Homo sapiens: one gene and its partners. The protein of the gene in region 4 purifies or fractionates together with the protein of the main gene of each other region. This does not show direct contact. Each region holds a gene or a part of one and is shown on either strand. Other genes may lie near its edges.

Evidence for each region.
Region 1: the proteins of MPP1 (region 4) and AGFG1 purify together in Homo sapiens (affinity purification with mass spectrometry; one large-scale study listed by BioGRID and IntAct). This does not show direct contact.
Region 2: the proteins of MPP1 (region 4) and SARNP purify together in Homo sapiens (affinity purification with mass spectrometry; one large-scale study listed by BioGRID and IntAct). This does not show direct contact.
Region 3: the proteins of MPP1 (region 4) and METTL3 purify together in Homo sapiens (affinity purification with mass spectrometry; one large-scale study listed by BioGRID and IntAct). This does not show direct contact.

Annotation. Positions count from the first base shown.
Region 1 is NC_000002.12:227,530,261-227,535,506, reverse strand, and holds part of AGFG1 (arf-GAP domain and FG repeat-containing protein 1), read right to left. Parts: intron 4,417-5,246; coding exon 4,297-4,416; intron 3,370-4,296; coding exon of another isoform or gene 3,298-3,369; intron 1,959-3,297; coding exon 1,749-1,958; intron 663-1,748; coding exon 482-662; intron 1-481. UniProt on the Homo sapiens protein: Required for vesicle docking or fusion during acrosome biogenesis. May play a role in RNA trafficking or localization.
Region 2 is NC_000012.12:55,799,874-55,805,119, reverse strand, and holds part of SARNP (SAP domain-containing ribonucleoprotein), read left to right. Parts: intron 1-1,391; coding exon 1,392-1,491; intron 1,492-4,219; coding exon 4,220-4,266; intron 4,267-4,490; coding exon 4,491-4,558; intron 4,559-5,246. UniProt on the Homo sapiens protein: Binds both single-stranded and double-stranded DNA with higher affinity for the single-stranded form. Specifically binds to scaffold/matrix attachment region DNA. Also binds single-stranded RNA. Enhances RNA unwinding activity of DDX39A.
Region 3 is NC_000014.9:21,500,490-21,505,735, forward strand, and holds part of METTL3 (N(6)-adenosine-methyltransferase catalytic subunit METTL3), read right to left. Parts: intron 3,393-5,246; coding exon 3,175-3,392; intron 3,089-3,174; coding exon 2,684-3,088; intron 1,415-2,683; coding exon 1,239-1,414; coding exon of another isoform or gene 1,220-1,238; exon of another isoform or gene 1,219-1,219; intron 641-1,218; coding exon 424-640; intron 194-423; coding exon 6-193; intron 1-5. UniProt on the Homo sapiens protein: The METTL3-METTL14 heterodimer forms a N6-methyltransferase complex that methylates adenosine residues at the N(6) position of some RNAs and regulates various processes such as the circadian clock, differentiation of embryonic and hematopoietic stem cells, cortical neurogenesis, response to DNA damage, differentiation of T-cells and primary miRNA processing.
Region 4 is NC_000023.11:154,780,374-154,785,619, reverse strand, and holds part of MPP1 (55 kDa erythrocyte membrane protein), read left to right. Parts: intron 1-462; coding exon 463-569; intron 570-1,511; coding exon 1,512-1,592; intron 1,593-2,112; coding exon 2,113-2,193; intron 2,194-3,817; coding exon 3,818-4,020; intron 4,021-4,306; coding exon 4,307-4,381; intron 4,382-5,246. UniProt on the Homo sapiens protein: Essential regulator of neutrophil polarity. Regulates neutrophil polarization by regulating AKT1 phosphorylation through a mechanism that is independent of PIK3CG activity.

The sequences.
Region 1 (5,246 bases), on a different chromosome or scaffold from region 4:
AGATGTGCTTATTTGTAAATATGAGGATGACACTGAAGAGATACAGAATTGATTTTGGGCTTTGGTGCAAACACTTCTAAAAATCTGTATTTACAACTAAGCCTATAATATGGGACTTTCACTGTTTAATCATCATGACTAAAAACTATTTTTAAAGTATATTATTTGACTACTAAATGGATTCTCTGCTGAGTACAATCTGTAAGGAACTGTCCATTTTGAGATGTGTACATGCTCTCAAATACGGTTTAGTGTTCAAGGACAGAACATAACAAAACGTCTGATTCAATGAAAAGATAAAATTATGGCAATTATTCAAGGATTATATTTTAATTAGCATTTAAATTCAAATTCCTCAAATTTACAAAAATATCCAAGAATTTTAAAATTATACCTTGAAACAGTCATTTTTTAATTGATTATTCAAAGTTGGAAAAAAAAGATAAAACACAAAGCAGGAGGGCTAGCTAAGACAAGGTACCTGCTAGCATTACTTGTGGAAGTATACGCATTACTGGAGGTGGCTGCAGAACTGAAAACGCTGTCTAGTTCTGCCAGAGCTGCATACTTGTCTGAAGATGCACTTGACTGACTGGGAACTGAAACCACAGAACCAACAGGAGCTTTACCTGTGGTCCCAAAGCCACTTCCCTGATCACCACCTGGGAACGAACAAAATCAAGTTACACCAAAAATTTAAAGTTACACTTTCAACTTATCAACCACATTTGCCATGAAACACAGGTAAACTTAAAATGGATTTAGAGTTAAGCAGGATTCCAAATCATTAATCTAATAAATAACCTGGACCATACTGGACAGGATTAGTTGTTATACATACCACTGTGATAAAGACAGAATATGTCTCTTAACAAAAATTAACACTCTGTACCAAAAAAATTTGTCTGGATTATGCATAAGAAAGAAACTCTCAAGTGCTCTTACGTTAACATCTCCAAGACGGGTGGATCTTGTTCACATGAACATATAAATTCATATAATGCTAGACCTAATGTGAACAGTCTATCAATAGCATCATTTCCCCAGCATTCTCCACAAAAAAATTAGAGATGGTAATAACGGGAAACATTTATTGAGGACTTACTATGTGCTAGGCACTGTTCTATATGCCTTAACATGCAATAATACTTAGAACACAACTCCATGAGTTTAATGCTTAGAATTATCCTCATTTTGGAGAGGAGGAAAACAGGCCCAGAGATCAGAATGGAGAATTCCATTTAGCAACACACACCTGCTATTCACCAGTGCCACATGCATTTGTAGAGGCTACTAGCCTTAAGATAAAACTGGATACAAGACTATACTGTAAAATTCATGAATTTTTTTTTTTAAATATAAAAAACCCACCAAGATGTTAACGGAAAATTGTTCGAAGTAAATATATTACAGAAACCACCAAATAATCCTCCATTCAGCTCTGCCAATGGGGTTTCTTGGCTCTTTATAGCCAAAGAAAAGTAAAGCACGCCTTCTAGGACAAAATAAAATTTTTCTCAACTAGTAAGACTGAAAGTTTACAAATCAGTCCCTATGTCTTCAGTTTTGTAGTTGATATTTCAGGTCTAAAATGTGTCAAGTGAACATTTTACTCAAAATGACAGTGCAGACAAAATTTCTATACAACAACTGAGAAAAGTGTAGCATGTTCAGATTTTAATAAATACAACCAAATTAAGAGCACTGTTTAACACAAATTTGTATTTGTTTTGCTTAAAGCTTGATACCTTGCCCGGCACTGAAGATATTGTCTAAATTAGCAAGTGCTGCATATTTGTCTGCAGTCTGTAAACCAGCTTTGTTCGTTGAAACTTTACTAACAGCTGATGCTGTTTGATGACTCTGGGAAGTATTGAAGGTTCCAAAATCAGCACTGGAGGATTTGGGGAAGTTATCAAAATGAGCAAAATTAGCATTTACTGATGCAGCACTTCCACCTGTAACAGAATAAACAGAGCACTTGAAATTTCTAAGCTTTTCCTAGTACCCTCTCATAGACTGTATGATCATTTCTTCCTAAATTAAATGTCCTATAAGCAATCTTACAACATTAAAATCAATGACTGGCAATGGCTTTTGACTACAAGTGACGTTTTCCAATTTTGTAAAAGTAGATTTTTCAAAGGCCTTGGCAACAGGTAAAGTAACATGTTTCTGTGTATTACCTACCCTGGAATGAAGAATGTAATTCATGGAGGGGTATCTCCACACTACCTGGTTTGAGATTCAGTTACTTTCTAGTCCAAATATACTACAGCCTTTCACTAGTTCTCCCTGAACAGACTGCAAACAAGATGCAAAGTATCTTACTAGGAGGATTTCAAACTTTTGTGGCTCCATGACGAAACAGTTTAAACAATCCCAGGGGTAGCGATTAACAATGTGTAAAATGTGTTACGGTGATCCAAAATTCCTTAAAAGATGGTCGTTGACATTTATACTTACTTCACTTGAAGAGCTACTATTTAATTCCACATAATAGTTTAATGTGTATACAATATCAAGATGTCCACTGTAAAATCATGCCGTACCATATAGTTCAAGGCATTAAAATTACAGTACATAATACATTATAGCAATTTTTGACTTTATAAACCACAATTCACCTAATGGCCACTATTATATATATCCTGTTACATCTTTAAAATCTGTTCTCTATTATAGAGACCTCCTTAAAGTACTATCAAAAGACTAAAACCAGTATATTTCATTCTATGCTTTTGATCCTACATTTTTGGGATATTAGTTCTTTATTTCTAAACTTTAGTTTCAGAAATCAAAACAGTATATATACACAGTTATATATTAAAGTGATAGAAAAGACAACTACAGATAATTTTAAAACAGAATGCATGAACTTCTATTAAAAAAACACGAACACTTTCTATCAAGCAGGTTTTTATACATTCTAAAAAAAATATACACTGATCAAATTTCTTTCAAGAGTTAAATCATGGTGGTTTCAATTAAAGGTAAGTAATATATGTTTGTATGTAAAATATTGTGACCTGTTACAAGGAGCTGGCAAACAAAGTACATACTAAACTTTCAAAATTTATATAAAGAATATTATTTCAAATTATTATTAAACCAAGTAACTCTTTGATTGTCTACTATTGTGTTCTCTAACTCTGAGTTTAATAAATAGAGTTGGAAGAGATTTTTATGAAGGATTATCACTAAAGAATTATTAACAATCTATAACTGGAAAAACCCTTGAAGTATAGCAAAAATATACAAATTAGTATAAGATGCCTACTTGACAACAGAACTTACTGTGGGTAGCCTGAAGAGGAAAAGCTGAAGTAAATTCACCAAAACTGCAGCTAGATGAAAGCATTCTAAATGCTGGACAGCCAGAAATTATGTAAATGATGAAAGTTAAAGAAAAAACAAAAAAGAAAATTGAAAGAAAAGGCTTTAAGACAATACACAGAGTTAAAAGTTGAAAGAAAAGTAATCAGCCAAAAATCTAAATAAGGGTTCCATGAGTTTACGAAAACAGCACAATTTATGGAAAGAGTATTCAATGTTTAAACACCAATTCCTGCACAGAAAACTATTTCCAAGTTTGACTGAAGTGATCATTAATCTACTCTTGTCTAATAAACATATAAAAATTTTTCTCAGGCTTGTTGCCCCGAAAATTACTTACATTTTTAGCTCTACAGAAGCAACCAGCTTCCTTTATTAAGAGGTATAATGTCAGCCTAAATCAATGGATTCTATGAACCTTAAAAAACTTATAGTACTGGCTGGGCACAGTGGCTCACACCTGTAATCCCAGCACTGTGGGAGGTCAAGGCAGGAGGATAACTTGAGGCCAGGAGTTCAAGACCAGCCTGGGCAACATAGTGAGACCCAGCTGCTACCAAAAAAAAAAAAAAAATTTAGCTGGGAGTGGTGGCATGTGCCTGTATTCCATCCTGAGGCAGGAGGATTGCCAAAAAAAAAAAAAAAGAGACAGAGAGAGAGAAATACTTATAGTAGTGTCATGCCTCTGTCCTGTGTGCATGGTAGATATAAGGAAGATTCATGCGCAGGAAAAGGAGGAGAATGGATGTTGTCAAACAGACAATATACCAAATAATGCAGAAAAACAAATGAACATAGAAAAAAATAAAGAGTTCAGGTTTCCCCAGAGCTTTTGAAGATAGAACCATTTTAAAGTCAGATAATTACAGAATTTAAGTTTAGACTAATTTTTCAAAACTACATTTAGAGAGTTTTGTTTTGTAAAGTAAACATTTAAGCACAATGCTGGAGAAGCTCTACCTGTAGTTTGGGGCTGAAAAGGAGAGTGACTTGCTGTGGGGAAACCTCCAAAATTACTCGAACCACTAGACTGTCCAAATGCATCAAAGTTTGCAAAATCTGCATTTGCAGAATTCTGAGCTGTAAATGGTAAGGAACAACATATGTTAATGAATATGAAAACTATAAATGAAAATACATGACACATGAGTTTAAGAATTATATGAAAAGTTTCTATGTATCAAAACTCACTTTATAGAGAATTCACTTAGCAATCAGATTTTAAACCCTACCAGCATGTAACCCAATTACAGGTAATTTACTAAGGAGTAACCAAGAATTTCCAAAAACACTTTGTGCAATGATAAATTTGGACACAATACTCTGTATATGACCTCAAGCACAGTACTATAAAAGTGACTCTATTAACAAAGGAAACTATTTCAGAGTACTGAGTTACAGTACTGAGTTATAGGAAAGCAGACAAAGATGTAGAAAACATCCTGGAAAAATTCACTGATTAAAAATGGTAATCAACTATGTGAATCTGAATAATAACTGAAATACTTAAAATAATAATACAAAAATGGTTTAATTAATAGAGCTTTTTTTAAGTTTACAAATGTCTCACCATGGTCATATATAAAAATTTAAAAAAAGGACAAGATCACCAAATAAATTGAAGATATTCATATTCTATTAGAAGCCTGCAATTTTAAACTCATTAAAATTTAAGAAACAATGAATGCTAGCATAGAAATTATAGCATATAATTCAGAGCCCCAAACATTAATAGAATACCTATTAAATAGGCAAGACAGGACTTTGTAGTACTTGTATCCATTTTTACTTCTAGGTACTGATCTATTCACTATCTTCAACAATCGATTATAAGTGCTGCAGAATGAAACTTTGGAAAACACAACTTTGCAAATTCAACACTAATAAATTCAGTAATACAAAAATTACTG
Region 2 (5,246 bases), on a different chromosome or scaffold from region 4:
TGGCTAATTTTTGTATTTTTAGTAGAGACGGGGTTTCACTGTGTTAGCCAGGATGGTCTCGATCTTCTAACCTTGTGATCCACTCGCCTCGGCCTCCCAAAGTGCTGGGATTACAGGCGTGAGCCACCGCGCCCGGCCATTGTGATATGTTTTAAAAAACTCTCCACTTTTCATTATGAAATGTTCTCCTAGCTGAAAAACGTAGAGATGCAGAGCATCCTCCATAGTTGTAAAATTTTTTGTCTATAGGAGTCTGCCTTCTAGCTTCTACTGATTGGTCATAGATCTGTACTCCAAAACAAAAAAGGTCATCTTTCAGACCAAAGATCTATCTGTGTGTTGATCTGCATATAGAATTTCTGGAGCCTTTCTTTCCTGCTTGTTCTCCTGGGTCAGCATGTCGTTGTGCTTCGTAAAATAAGAGTATAGAGCCCAGTAAGGCCATTACATCGTTTATTATGGAGTCTATATTTCAGTTACCTATGACTTATAGGTAGCAAATCATACTGTTAACCTTCTTTGCCTAAAATTCTGATGTCTTTATCCTTTGAGTTACTATTGAGCCAATCCTCCCTTACCCAGTTTTTATATAACTGAAGTTTTGAATCTAAGTGTAGGAAGTTATATGTATACCTTATTCCTACTAAATTGAGTCTTTGTTTTGGCTTATTATTAGTCCTGAAGAAGTGTTTTTTTTTTTTTCTGTTTCCGTGTTGCATTTTTTAAGCTTAGTTATGTCAATAATCCATCAATTCTCCTTCCTCCTATTGTCTGTAAAATTGATGAACATAGCTTTTATATCTTTAGATAAGTTAAATCTTCAGCAGAACTCTATGGTATGCCATTAGATATTTCTTCCCATTTTGACACAGATCCTTTAATCAATTCATTGTTCACATTAGCTAATGCATCTACCTAATTCTATGGTGGTTAGACCTGTATGCATGTATATGGTAGATTGTAATAACGGATCTGGGATAATAAGTGGTAAGGAGAATCTGCTTTTAGATCATTGGATTTTCTACTTGAAGGTTCATTCTTCCAATATGCTGGCTGCCACAGTAGTCTTAAGAAAAAAACCTTTTTCCCCCCTCAGAATATTTAGAAATAACTAGAGATTTGTGACAGTTAGTAGGTATACAAATAGATGAGGTTTTTTATTAAAGTGTGATGTTTATTCTTCAGCATCTGTTAGGCAGTTCCTCTTGTATATTGAATATCGTTAGAGGAAAATGGATCATCTTTGTGGACCTAGAGCCTTGGTAGAATTAAGGGCAGTAATTTGGGATGGAACTTCATTTTCTTTTTTTCTTTTCCTTGTGGGAACTACCATTTTATTCACTGGTGTTCATCCTGTTAACTAAGGAAAAGTTTTATTTTTTTCCCCTCAGCTTGCCGAACTAAAGCAAGAATGTCTTGCTCGTGGTTTGGAGACCAAGGGAATAAAGCAAGATCTTATCCACAGACTCCAGGCATATCTTGAAGAACATGGTGAGTACTTTGTGGAGGCGGAGTGATGTGAGTGAGGGGATTTTCAGGCTTTGACACTGAAAAGATTTCTTTTTTTTTTTTCAGGTCATTAGCAATGTAAGCTCTTAATTAACGGCATCAAGAAAACTCTCTCTTTTTTTTTTTTGAGATGGAGTCTTGCTCTGTTGCCCAGGCTGGAGTGCAGTGACGCAGTTTCAGCTCATTGCAACCTCTGTCTCCCGGCTTCAACCAATTCTCCTGTCTCAGCCTCCCAAGCAGCTGGGACTACAGGCGAGCACCACCATGCCTGGCTGATTTTTGTATTTTTAGTAGAGACGGGGTTTCACCATATTGGTTGGGCTGGTCTAGAATTCCTGACCTCAGGTGAGCCACCCGCCTCAGCCTCCCAAAGTGCTGGGATTACAGTTGTGAGCCACCGCGCCCAGCCATCTTGTACAACCTACATCTTAGGTTGTACAAGTCCTCTATCTAATTTTTATTTACGTATTCCCTTTTATTTCTATTCCTCATTTCACTTTCTCCCCAACCCATTTAGGCACCCGTTCTAATGTGTTTGAATGTATTTTTTTGGTGTTTTTCCTGGTAAACTATGTAGTGTTGTTTTGTAGAATGTTTTCATTTATATAATTGGTAATTACATAACTGGCCATAGCCTTGCTTTATTTCTCATTTTTTTCACTAAGTATTGTGTTTTTTTTTTTTTAAAGATGCGTCCATGTGGAATGTGACTGTGTAGTTATCTAGTCTGTTGATTCTAATTCCTGCATAGCATTCAATGATGGATAACCACACATTTTACTTAATTCACTCGGTGACAGAAAATTTTATTGCCACCAAGCCTCTGCTACTATAAGTGATACTACTTATAGTATACTATATGTATATAATAGTATATAGTATATATTATACTATGGGTTGAGTGTTATATATTTGAAATGCTTGGGACTAGAAGTGTTTCAGATTTTAGTTTTTTCGGATTTTGGAATATTTGTGTATATATATAATGAGATATCTTGGGGGTGAGATCCAAGCCTAAACACAAAATTTATTTGTTTCTTATCCACATATCTGAAAGTAGTTTTATACAGTATTTAAAATAATTTTGTACATGAAACAAAGTTTTGACTGTGACCCATTGCATGAGGTTAGGTGTGGGGTTTTCCACTTGTATCATATCAGCCTTCAGAAAGTTTTAGATTTAGGAGCATTTTAGGTTTTGAATTTTCAGATTGGTGATGCTTAACCTGTAGGATATAGTATACTATATCCTATATACTAATAGTATATAGTATATTATTATGAACTACTTATTTTATGCTCTTATGTTCCTGTGAAAGTCTTTTTGGGGTATATGCCCAAGAATGGTATTGCTAATTAATATTCATAAATATATACTTAATGTGACTAAGGACTCCCAAATTATTTTCCAGAATTGCTCTGTAGATCTGCAGTCTCATTACTAGTACATAAGGGTTCTTGTATCTTCACAAACCTAAACTTGGCACTGTCCTATCAAGTGGCCTAAGTTTTGCTAATTTGTTGGCTGTTTTATGTTCTCCATGAAAAAAGTTTAAACATTTCACAATTCTTTGGGTTTCTTCTTTGCCCATTTTTCTGTTGAGGTTCCCATAATTTGCCTGTTGGCTTGCAGGCATTTCTTTTATATTCTAATAACTATTGTTTTGTTGATTTTAGGCACAAATATCTTCTTTGGCTGTGCGGGGTGGTTCATGCCTGTAACTCAGCACTTTGGGAGGCTAAGGTGGTATGATCTCTTGAGGCCCGGAGTTTGAGACCAGTCTGGGCAGCATAGTGAGATCCCATCTCTAAGAAAAATAATAAAATTAGCTGGGTGTGGTGATGTGCACCTGTAGTCCTACCTACTTGGGAGGCTAAGGCAGGAGGATCCCTTGAGCCCAGGAGGGGGAGGCTGCAGGGAGCTGTGATTGTGCCATTGCACTTTATCTGGGCGACAGAGTAAGACTCTGTCTCAACAAAAACAAATGTCTTGTCATTTGTCTTTTAAGTTTCTTTGTGCTATCCTTAAGTAGAAGTACTTAGTTTTGAAAAATCTTCAATTTTTCACCTCTTACTTTTGGTTCTGGGTTGTTTTTCTTTTAAACAAATCTTTCCCCACCACTAAATCTCAAAGATACTTTTCCACATACTTTTTTTGTTTGTTATTCAAGACTGGGTCTTGCTCTGTCACCCAGGCTGGAGTGCAGTGACATGATCTCAGCTCACTGCAGCCTCTGCCTTCTGGGTTCAAGTAATGTTCCCACTTCAGCCTCCCCAGTAGCTAAGACTATAGGCGCACACCCCCACACCCAGCTAATTTTTTTATGTTTTTTGTAAAGACGGGGTTTCGCTGTGTTCCCCAAGCTGGTCGCTTGAACTCCTAGGTTCAAACGATCCACCTGCCTCTGCCTCCCAGATTGCTGGGATTACAGAGAGCCACGGTGCCTGGCCCAACATTACTTTTAAAATTAATTCTCTAGTTTGACTTCACATTTAGTTCTTCAGTCCAACTGGAGTTCACATTTGTAATTAATGTTAGGTAGAAATCTGGTTTTATCTTCTCCAGATGTAGCAGATTTTATGTGCATCAGTTTCTGCCTTCACTGTTGGATTTTTTGGGGGAAAGCAAAGTGATTATAATTTTAACCTTGGTAAGTGATCAAGATGGTTTTGTAGCAGGGCTTGACCTGAATATTTTAATATTCTTTAGCTGAAGAGGAGGCAAATGAAGAAGATGTACTGGGAGATGAAACAGAGGTGAGTTGGATAGAGTAAGGTTAGTCTCTGGTAATGTGCCACTGCTTTGGCCACATTGCTTTAACATCAGTCATTGGAGGACTTAGATGTAAATTTATTAGGGGAGCATAAGATGGGTATGAAGGTTCTGAGAGACTGGTTTATTTTGGAGTTCTGATGTTCTTCTTTTGATAGATATTTATTCTTTAGATTTATGTTAACCACCTTGTTTCATTTGGTTTTAGGAAGAAGAAACAAAGCCCATTGAGCTCCCTGTCAAAGAGGAAGAACCCCCTGAAAAAACTGTTGATGTGTAATTATCCCTTTTTTATAATCTGAGTACAGAGCAGGCAGCTCTTTTCTTAATGTATTTAATGTTTAACTTTGTTTACCTCTTACATGTTCCCATTGGCCTTTTCCTTTCTGATTAGGTCATTTTTTTGTTTTTTAGAAGGGACTACTTCAAAGTACTTGGTCCCAGTGAAGTAAAGCAAATTGTCTCTGAGTTATGTAATAGGTAATGAGGACCAGGTGACTTCAAGACCAGACATAGTTTAATTCTCCTAGCCTTTGTTGTTCTTTTGTAGGGTCACCATAATAGATTATTCTGTTACTCTATAGAGAATCTGTACAATTCTGTATGCAGTGTAAAACTGTGTAAACTCTGTTAACTTTTTTTTTTTTGAGACAGGATCTCACTCTGTTGCCCAGACTGGAGTGCAGTGGCGTGATCTTGGCTCACCGTAACTTCTGCTTCCCAGGCTCAAGCAATTCTCCTGCCTCAGCCTCCCGAGTAGCTGGGATTATAGGTGTGTGCCACTACTGCCCGACTGATTTTTGTATTTTTAGTAGAGACAGGGTTTTACCATGTTGGCCAGGCTGGTTTTGAACTCCTGACCTCAAATGATCCGTCTGCCTTGGCGTCCCAAAGTGCTGGGATTACAGGTGTGAGCCACCGTGCCCGGCCCATTCTGTTAACTGTTCATAAGAGTTTTGCACTT
Region 3 (5,246 bases), on a different chromosome or scaffold from region 4:
ATTACCTGCCTGTGACCCAGAGGAAGAGAAAGCCATCATCCTGTAGTACGGGTATGTTGAGCCTGCGCATCTCATCATCTGTCAGGGTCCCATAGGGCAGTTCCATGTGAATATCCCAGGGTGGGTCAGCCATCACAACTGCAAACTTGCCCAAGATACTGACGTCCAGGTAGCGGATATCACAACAGATCCACTGCATAAAGTGGTATTTGGTCATCTTCCCTACTTTAACTCTGAGATTCATGGCCCGAGTCCCTCTTTTCCATTTGATTTTTCCTATTCCCTTAAAAGCTTATCTATCCCCCTCCATTCCCAATAAGCAAGACAAGATTGCTGAATTATGCTCTGCTTTCTTAACGTGTATGGCTGCCCTATCAAACATAAGTCCGTAAGTTGAGACGAGTTTTCTGAGCAGACAGGTACCTGAGGTGGGAAGAGTCGGTCTGCACTGGAATCACCTCCGACACTCTGTGTAAGAGCAAGCTCCTGGCTTGGCGTGTGGTCTTTGCTGCCAGGGGCCTCAGAATCCATGCAAGCATCAATTTCATAGTGAACATACTTGCAGGTATCCATGTGGAAACATGTATTAAGGAAAGAGCAGTCACCTAAAGACTCATCAGTGTGTTTATTGATAATTCGTCTGGGAAAATAAAAAGGGAGAATCAAGATGGTGCTCCAGATGTAGATCCAACAGTTCAAATTCCAAATGATTTCAAAATGTCTATTTTATTACCCTCCCCTAATTCTATCATTAGAGCTTCCTTCAAGAGTTTTAAGGGAGGCAGGTAGCATGGAAATCCATAATTCATACTACAGAACAATTGTAATTCCTCTCTGAGTAAAGACTTGGTTTCCTGTTTTACCACTGGAAGGCAAGCAGTGCAGGAGACTTGGGTAGAACAGAATAAAACACTGACCTAAGAGTTTAGGTTCCTTTTCTCCTAAGATTATCCTCCTTTCAGAGTACTTTAACTTTCACTGTGGCTCAGAGACAGACATACTTTGCTATTCTAAGAGGGAGGGAGCTTTTAAAAAAAAAATCTCAGTTATTTGGGAGTACAGCCTGTATTCTTCCCACACAATGCACTTCTGAAAGTACACCTTCAGGGTCTGGAGGACTTACACAAACCATAAACTAAATAAGATTACAGACAGAACCCCAATGACTGGAAGGAATATGCTGAAAAGGAATGGCTGCTTCTGACAAACCCATCCCACCTCATTCCCTTCCAAGAGACCTGAAGTGCAGCTTGCGACAGGGTCGATCAGCATCACTGGCTTTCATGCACTCCTCCTTGGTTCCATAGTCACAGAATTCTTGCACTTGGGCCCGACCTCGAGAGCGAAATTTTTCAACAATGGATTGTTCCTTGGCTGTTGTAGTATTTAATAGCTCTAGGATCTCCTGACTGACCTGTGACAGAAGTAGCCTTGGACTTAAAATGTCTTATAGATCAAATTGGCTCTTAGACCAACTCCGCAAATTCTTTTTGACATTAATGTCTTCTAAGAGATAAATCAACTTTTTTTTTTTTTTTTTTTTTAAGAGATGGGATCTTGCTGTCACCCAGGCCAGAGTGTAGTTGTGTAATCATAACTCACTGTTTCTCCCACTGAACTCCCAGGCTCAAGTGATCCTCCCAGCTCAGCCTTCAATTGTAGCTGGGAATATAGGTGCGTGACACCATGCCAGCTAATGTTTTAATTACTTTACTTTCTATAGGGATAGGGTCTATGTTGCCCAGGCCGGTCTTGAACTCCTCGCCTCAGGTGATCCTCGCGCCTTGGCCTCCCAAAGTGTTGAGATTACAGGAATGAGCCATTGTGCCTAGACCTAAATTAGCTAACTTAATATTGGAAAATTGGAGCCTTCAGATAAGAGATTTGTTAGGGGTTCAGTCCTTCCTCACAAATATGCATTTGGGATGAAATTAAAATGGAAGAGGCCTGGTTCCTACCGCTAAGCATTATGTTAACATCCCCTCCCCAGGAAGGCATTCCTTCTACAAAAAACATATTTACTGGGTGCTGAACTAAAAAGTATAGTGCTAAACACTTTACTTTTTAGCTCAGAGTCTATTCAATTCTATAAGGCAGGATACGCTGGTATTATCTTCATGTTACAGATGAGAAGACTAAGGCTCAAGAGAAGTTAATTAACTTGTTCAAACTCACGCACTAGAAGTACCAAACAGATAAGAACTCATGTCAGGCCAATGCTTATACTCAGAACCAATTCACATTATTTAGTCAATTTCCATAATTGGTCTAGTATTCCTCTCCATTCATCTCCCTATATTTCTATATATTTGGATTCCTCTTCTCTTGATCCAATTCTTTCAGATTCAGTGACAGATTATCTAAATAAGAATTTGTCGACATTGGCATTGTTGACACTTTGGGACAGACAACTGTTTGTTGTGGGGGTTTGTCCCACTATGCACTGTAGGATGTTTGACAACATCCCTGGCCTCTACCCCCACTAGATGCCAATAGCACTCCCCCATGTGTGACAATAAAAATGTCTCCGGACATTACCAGATCCCCTGGGAGTTGGGCAGTAGGGAATCATCCCCAGTTGAGAACCACTGCTGTAAACAGTTCCTTGCCCTAGGGGTAAATCCCTGTCAAACAAAGCTATAATTAAGAGCATATTGTGAGAGTATTTTCACATGACCCCTACCTTCTTGCTCTGTTGTTCCTTAGTGGACTGTTGGTTCAGAAGGCTCTCTATCTCCAGATCAACATCTGAGGCAGCATGTTTCCTTGATTTCTTGGCTGGCTCCTTTGCTGGTTCCGATGCTGAAGAGTTCAGACCAGAGACTAACGAACTGGCAAAGGCAGCTACTGTAGTCGAGTCCTGTTCTGCACGCCGCTTCTGCCCTGTGACAGTCCCTGCTACCTCCCCAGGGCCCTTCTTTTCTGCCACAGCACCCATCATGGCAGAGAGCTTGGAATGGTCAGCATAGGTTACAAGAGTAGGATGTGCATCATCTTGTAGGAGACCTCGCTTTACCTCAATCAACTCCTGAGCTGCAAACTTCTGCAGGAGGCTTTCTACCCCATCTTGAGTGGCAGGAGCATCTGGCTAGAGAACGAGGGGAGGTATGGGCAATAAGACACTGACCGTGAACTGAAAATAAGTGGTAAATCCTAACTCTGTCAGGTCATTACCGTGGAGATGGCAAGACAGATGGACACAGCATCAGTGGGCAATGTTAAGGCCAGATCAGAGAGGTGGTGTAGCAACTTCTTCTCTAACTCAGGATCTGTAGCTAATTCAGGAACTGCTGAAGCTGTGCTGGGCTTAGGGCCACCAGAGGTGGGTGCAGTAGGCACTGGGCTGTCACTACGGAAGGTTGGAGACAATGCTGCCTCTGGATTCCGTAGATCTAAGAATGAAGAGAAGTGAAAATGAAAAAAGGCAACCACTGTTGGTCTATATATTTCTGAGAAGTCAAATTCTCTAGCATTCCCATACACAGATCTTTCATTTTGTGCAGGAAATTCTGTGACCAACTTTAGCACTAGATTACCTATCCTCAATCATACTAAAACATTCACTGCTTTGTCAAGATAATACTGGATTTTCTATCTACCTTTTCTCTATTGAGTGAGTAATCTTTTCCTAATTCCCTATCCTTGCTGTGATACAAAGAAAGTAAATTAGCATGATAGATTTAAATATCCCTACCACCTTTCTATCAACCTACATTTTAATAAAGGACAGGAATATACTCAACAACCTAGGCTGGGATCCAATATTCTTTTTGAGGCATGTAGTGTGAATTTTAATGAATTCAGGCCACTGATCAACAAAGTGTACAAAATGACAATGTTGGGGGCCAACAGTGTTACCTATAACACTCACAAACACAAAAATCTTAATACTTTGCTGAAGCCTTGGTTACCAAATGATATTTCCTGACTATATTATTATCATCTATTACTTCACAAGCTGGGTTGCCATCATAACCTTAATAACGATTTGAGAAACTAAAATTAGGACAAAATGTTATCTTTGAGAAAGCCTAATATCTGTGGTTAATTAAAATATAGATGAAATATTAAACTCCTAAGAACTGAACTGAAATTGCTAAATAAGTAGGCCATTAGTTTACATTTAGAAATATTTTGTTTACTTAAATATTTCCATTCTGGTAAGGCACTGGGGCTCACGCCTGTAATCCCAGCACTCTGGGAGGCCAAGGTGGGTGGATCACTTGAGGTGAGGAGTTCGAGACCAGCCTGGCCAACATGGTGAAACCCCATCTCTACTAAAATACAAAAAAAAAAAAAATTTAGCTGGGGGTGGTGATGCAAGGTTATAATCCCAGCTACTGGGGAGGCTGAAGGAGGAGAATTGCTTGAACCCACGAGGCAGAGGCTGCAGTGAGCCAACATCATGCCACTGCACTCCAGACTGGGCGACAGAGCAAGACTCTGTCTCAAAAAATATATAAATAAATAATTCATTAATTTGAAAATTTTCCACTCTAATGGAAACTGAATTTATTAAAATCTGACTCAGGGCTTGGTGTGGTGCCTTATCTCTGTAATCCCAGCACTGTGAGAGGCCAAGGTGGGAGGATCACTTGAGCCCAGGAGTTCCAGACCAGCCAGGGGAACATGGTGAAACCCAGTGTCTCTAAAGAAAATTTTTTTAAAAATTAGCCACACAAGGTGGCCTGTGCCTGTAGTCCCAGCTGCTGGGGAGGCTGAGGTGGGAGGATTCCACTCTCACCCATTTCTTCTTTCATTTTCAGTTTCTCCAGTTAGTAACTGAAGATGTTCTTTGAGTAATTAAGTGAGTGAGAAAATTTTTAAGTGAGAAATCTATAAAAAGAACCATGTTAACATAAATATTTCAGTCCTTACAAGTTGGTATTGACTTTTCTCATTGGTAATCTGACTGATTTAATACTGCTCATTCCAATATCTGGTGATGTAATTCTGGTTATGAATCCTTGTATTAATAACACCTCCTGGGAGGTTTTTTTTCCCCAACATTACATTCAGAATATTAGAGCTGAAAATACCTTTTTTAAGGTTATCAGGAGGAGGGAGCTTATGTTTAATGTGGTGGATAAAACTTAACTGCTGGTTAATACAATTGTTATTCAGGTGAAATTCCCTAAACTTTTCACGTGCAAAGTTTTGTATGTATACAGACATTTGGGGAAAAGTTTTATCATCCCTAAAACCGGTTACTGTCCAGAAAATGATAAGAATCCCTGGGTTCCAAA
Region 4 (5,246 bases):
CACTGAATAGAAATATTAGAATATATTACATGTAGTAATACAAGTTATTGTTTTGTGAAGCAGTTGTTTTAGATATATATGTGGGGTGTGTGTATGTGTTTTGTTTATAGATGTATGTGCAATAATGGCTTGCAATGTACAGTGTATTTCTTAGAGTGAGGTAGGGTCATAAAGGTTTGAGACCTTTATGGTCTAGACCAAAGAAAGAGAGTTGTTTGTGGGTTGTGTCCAGAATGTGCTGACAGGTACTAGATGACACAGACTCAAGGAGCCAGGTCCCTGACTGAGGGCAGGGCACAGTGCAAGATGCACCAAACAGTGTATGGGGTGCTTTGCACACATTATCTCCCACTGTAATGGACACTCAGAGAGTGAAGGGGGTGCCATTAGAGACTGAGTGGCTGGGGGGGGTATGAGGGGAGGGGGAGGAAAGCTGACCCCTTGATTGTCTTTTCCTACCAGGCGAGTGGCAAGTATGGCTCAGTCAGCTCCTAGCGAAGCCCCGAGCTGCAGTCCCTTTGGGAAGAAGAAGAAGTACAAAGACAAATATCTGGCCAAGCACAGCTCGAGTAAGCTTTCTGAGCCTTCTTGCCCCAGGTTCCTGGCAGCATTCACGTGTTTCCCAGTCTCTGTAACCAGCAGAAAAGGGGAGGTGGTGCAGTGCGCAGCAGAAGGCGCATTCTACAGAAAGCATGTCATTTCTTCTGGTTTCTTTTTATTGAATCCATCTTCACAAGCTTGCTGCAGTCAGGCCAGTGGATGTAAAGGAGGACTAGTGGTGAGCCCACACCTGCTCATCACCCCACCCCTCACACAGAAGTAGATGTGGTGGGAGAGGGGAAGTGAGGCAAGAACACAGGCCAGAGGGAGAGGCCAGGGCCAGGTCATAGGGAGCTTCGTGCACCCTCCCTAGCGTTTTAAATTTTGCACTATAGACTGTGGAGCTGGTGAAGGGTTTTGAGCAGAGAATTCGCACGGTCAGCTTTCCATCTGCATTTCTCTTTTCTGAGACGTCACGTGCACACCACCAGCCAGGGAATGATCGTGGCAGTCTTGGGTTGTAGGCAGGTAAGGGGGTGGAGAGTCAGGATGACACCAGGTCTCTATCTTGAGCAGCTGGGTCAATAGCACCACCATCTTCTAAGATAAGGGACATTCAGGCAGAACCGAGATAGCATTGGCATTCTTCAGCTCTAAGTGCCAAGGGAACATCTGATACTGAAACTATGGAGAAGAGATGAGGACAGGAGACAAGAAAAGTTGGCTCAGAGAGATAGGGCAAGGAGGAAGAGAGGGTGCAAAAGTTAGATAAACTCCCTTGCTCAAAATTCCCTCACCACACTAAAAATACAGTCCAAAGTCCTTCCTCCACACCAACCTCCCTCGTCTCATCTCTAGTCACTTCCTCCCTGCTTGTTGAGATGTCGCGAGGCTGTTTCCCATTTCAGAGTGTGGACCACTGTTCTCCCTAGCTCTGGAAATGAACACTGCTTGGTTTTCTTTGTCTCTAGTTTTTGATCAGTTGGATGTTGTTTCCTACGAGGAAGTCGTTCGGCTCCCTGCATTCAAGAGGAAGACCCTGGTGCTGATCGGTATCTTCTCATTGCCCCATTTGCACATTTCTGTCTTTGTTTTCCTGCCTGCATCACGTGCCCACCCCCAAAAAAGGCAGTGAGGAAGAAAAGAACTGAGGTCTCTTGGGTTCTCCATATAGAGCAGGTGTAAGGAATTTTCTGAATCCTCACGTGCACCCCACCTGGGTCCACCTCACAAATGAAACTAAACCTTACAAGTTTCTCTACTATTTAGCAACGAATTATTTTTGGTTAGGTTTCATGCTGTCTGCTGGCAGTGATACGCTTTGTAAATCTCCCTTCCCCCAAGCAGTGACTCTGACCTGAAACAGAGTAAGTCCTTGCTTCAAACCCAGGTATGTAGGCTTTGCCTCTGGCGGACTGCTCACCTTCCTGTCTTTAGAGTTGACCCCAGCCCAGATGCAACCCCAACTCATGTTCACCTGTTGGCAGTTTTGAGTGCCGAGAGAGGAAAATCCGTATCTTATCCTCGCTCCTCTCCCCCCTTTCCAAAAGATGTTCTTCTCTCTCTACACAGGAGCCAGTGGGGTGGGTCGCAGCCACATTAAGAATGCCCTGCTCAGCCAGAATCCGGAGAAGTTTGTGTACCCTGTCCCATGTAAGTAGCTCTTAGGCACCTTGGAGGGGAGGTGACAGGCTGGTACCACTCGCCATCTGAAATACCATAGTGTTATTTTATTATTTTTTAAATTATTTTATTTTAAATGATTATTAAAACTAAACAAAATATGGAAAGATAAAAATTTGTGCCCACAATTCCTCCACCTAACAGAATAACTGTTTTCTTATTGTTATTCGTGCTGTTTGTCTACATAACAGAAGCTATAGTAAACATTTTGATACTGCCTTAAAAATTACTAAGTATTAAAGTTTATACATATAACTTTGTCATTTTACTTTTTAAACATTTTCTCATGTTCCTCTGCAATTTGCCTAATTCTCTTTGAGAACTATCCCACTCTTGATGTTCAGGCTGCCTCTCATTTTCATGGAATGTCTTCTAAATCAAAGCAGTGCCTAGGAAAGGCCCAAACGATCTCAACAGCAGTCCTAGATATGGAGAAGAGTAGCGCCAGTGATCAGGTGGAGAATTTGATAACTCTTCCATTCCCAGAAGTGATGCTGCATGGTATAGTTGTGTATGTTCCCAGAAAGAAATACGGTGATTCCTCACTTAATATTGTCAATAGGCTCTTCGAAGACTGTGACTTTAAGTGAAATGACATATAACAAGAACCAGTTTTTTTACTCATCAACAATACAATGAAATGAAGTTGAACTAAACCATGTTAGTCAACGACCAGCTGCATGTGATTTCACTTAAAGTCACATTTTCTAAGAACCTACTGATAATAATATTAAGTGAGGAATTACTGTACTGCTAAGCAAAATAGAAAACCAGATTCTAAACCTCATATTACTATTTTTTAATTCTTTCTTCATTTTGCTTTTTTACACATGGATCATTGAGAGTTGTCTCGTTGCTGGAGGGACATAAGAGTTATTCCAGTGTCACATTAGGAGCAGAAAGAGATGGCCCCAGGAGTGAGTGGGGAAGCAGAAATAACCAGTACAGGCTCCTCCTTCAAGAGAATCACATGTGGTTGTAGATTGAGGGGAAGGGGCCAGTTGAGAGACAAGTGTGATCCGGAAGGCAAAGGAGACAGTCAATGGAAGATGGAAAGAGGGGAGGTTGGGAGGATTGTGTTTCAAGCTACAATATCTGGAGCATATTTTACTGATTAGACAATTTATATGAGTAATAGAAAATAGTCCAACTTTTAACAACATGAGCTGAAACTAAACCAAAGTACTCTTCTTTCCAAGTCATGAAAAGGAAACCTTAAATATATTTCCAAGAAATCCTGACCATAGTCTGTAGATCTGTTTTTAAAATATTTTCCGCTATCTTCATTTCTAAGTTTCAATATTCCTAGATTTGGTAGTTTGAGAGATGTAACTTCATTTAGGGAAAATGATAATAGGAATTTTCTATGTTAGGCTTTGCCCCTTAAAAATTAAATGTGTCCTGGGCAGATGGAGGGATTTCCTGGTGTGCATCACTTTCTAGCATCAGCTCTTCAGGAGCCCACGGGAGGAACCCCTGTATTAAAGTCAATGCACCAAAGGCAGCTAGGGTTTCCATACAGACACCATGGTCCAAGCCCTCATGAAAGGGTGAGGACCTGGAGTTTGTCGGGGATTTGGGTTCTTGTACACAGATACAACACGGCCGCCAAGGAAGAGTGAGGAAGATGGGAAGGAGTACCACTTTATCTCAACGGAGGAGATGACGAGGAACATCTCTGCCAATGAGTTCTTGGAGTTTGGCAGCTACCAAGGCAACATGTTTGGCACCAAATTTGAAACAGTGCACCAGATCCATAAGCAGAACAAGATTGCCATCCTTGACATTGAGCCCCAGGTGGGTAGGCATGGAAGGGCAGGGACAGATGGGCTCAGCCACACAAGGGATGGCGAAGACAGTGCTCCTTGGGAATCTTCTGGGGGCTCAGGATTGCTTCAGCCTTTTAATGGGGTCAGCCTGGAACAAGAACAGTAGTACTGGGAATGATGGAAAGTTGTATTGGGGTAAAGCTCAAAGCTGCTTATTAGAAGGAATCCATTATGACAGCTATGTAGGTTTTTTTTTTTCACTTTCCTTTTCTTCCTTCCCCCCCCTCCCCGCCGCCCTTCTTTTTTTTTTCTAGACCCTGAAAATTGTTCGGACAGCAGAACTTTCGCCTTTCATTGTGTTCATTGCACCTACTGACCAGGGCACTCAGGTGAGGAGAGGTTGTGCGCGATGGGTAGTTCACTTTCTCCGGGCCTGCCCATACTGGGACCTCAGTCCAGGTCATTGGCCAGAGTGCTGGCTGGAGGTCACAGCTCCAGCTGGGCTTCTTCCTCCAGGGCCAAGAAGCCAAAGGGTATGCACATTCGTTCCAGCTCTTAAGCCACTAGCTAGGCCAGTGCCCATGCTACCTAACAGGGACAAAACAAACCAGACCCAGTCATCGTCCTGGAGGCACACAGTTCCAGGGGCAGAGATGGACAGTTGAGCAGATCCTGATACTGGTGGGATGCAGGCTCTGGCAGGGGAAGCTGTGATGGACAGAGGTGGCACTGAACCCGCCCTGGGGTGCAGTATGGCTGTGGGGAAAGACAGAGAGGCCAGGAATATATCAAAAAGCCTACCCTGCTCCTCTGCCCAGCCCTACCCATGCACTTTGCTGCACTGTGCTTTTGCATTGAACAATGGACACCTTTCCCTATCAGGGTGTGAGGAACTCTTTTTCTCTATAGCTGCTTGGTCTTCTGCTGCATGCATGTGTAATACTGCAGTCAATAGCCCTGTGCATATAGCACATGTGTGCAAATATATCTGTAGGAAAAACTCCAAGTAGGATCACTGGGTCCAAGAGCACACACACTTAGAATTTGGACAGGGACCGCCAACCACCTGTGAGACTGCTTGTTTCTCTTTGCCTGCAGCATGTTGTCAAAATTTTCTTTTTTTGCCAGTCTACTGGAGGGAAAAATAGTATCTCATATTTCTTTTTTACTAAAAGAGATGATCAGGTACTTTTTCATATGAAGAGCAATTTGTATTGCCTTTTCTGAGAATTATCTGGTCATACCCTTAGCTCA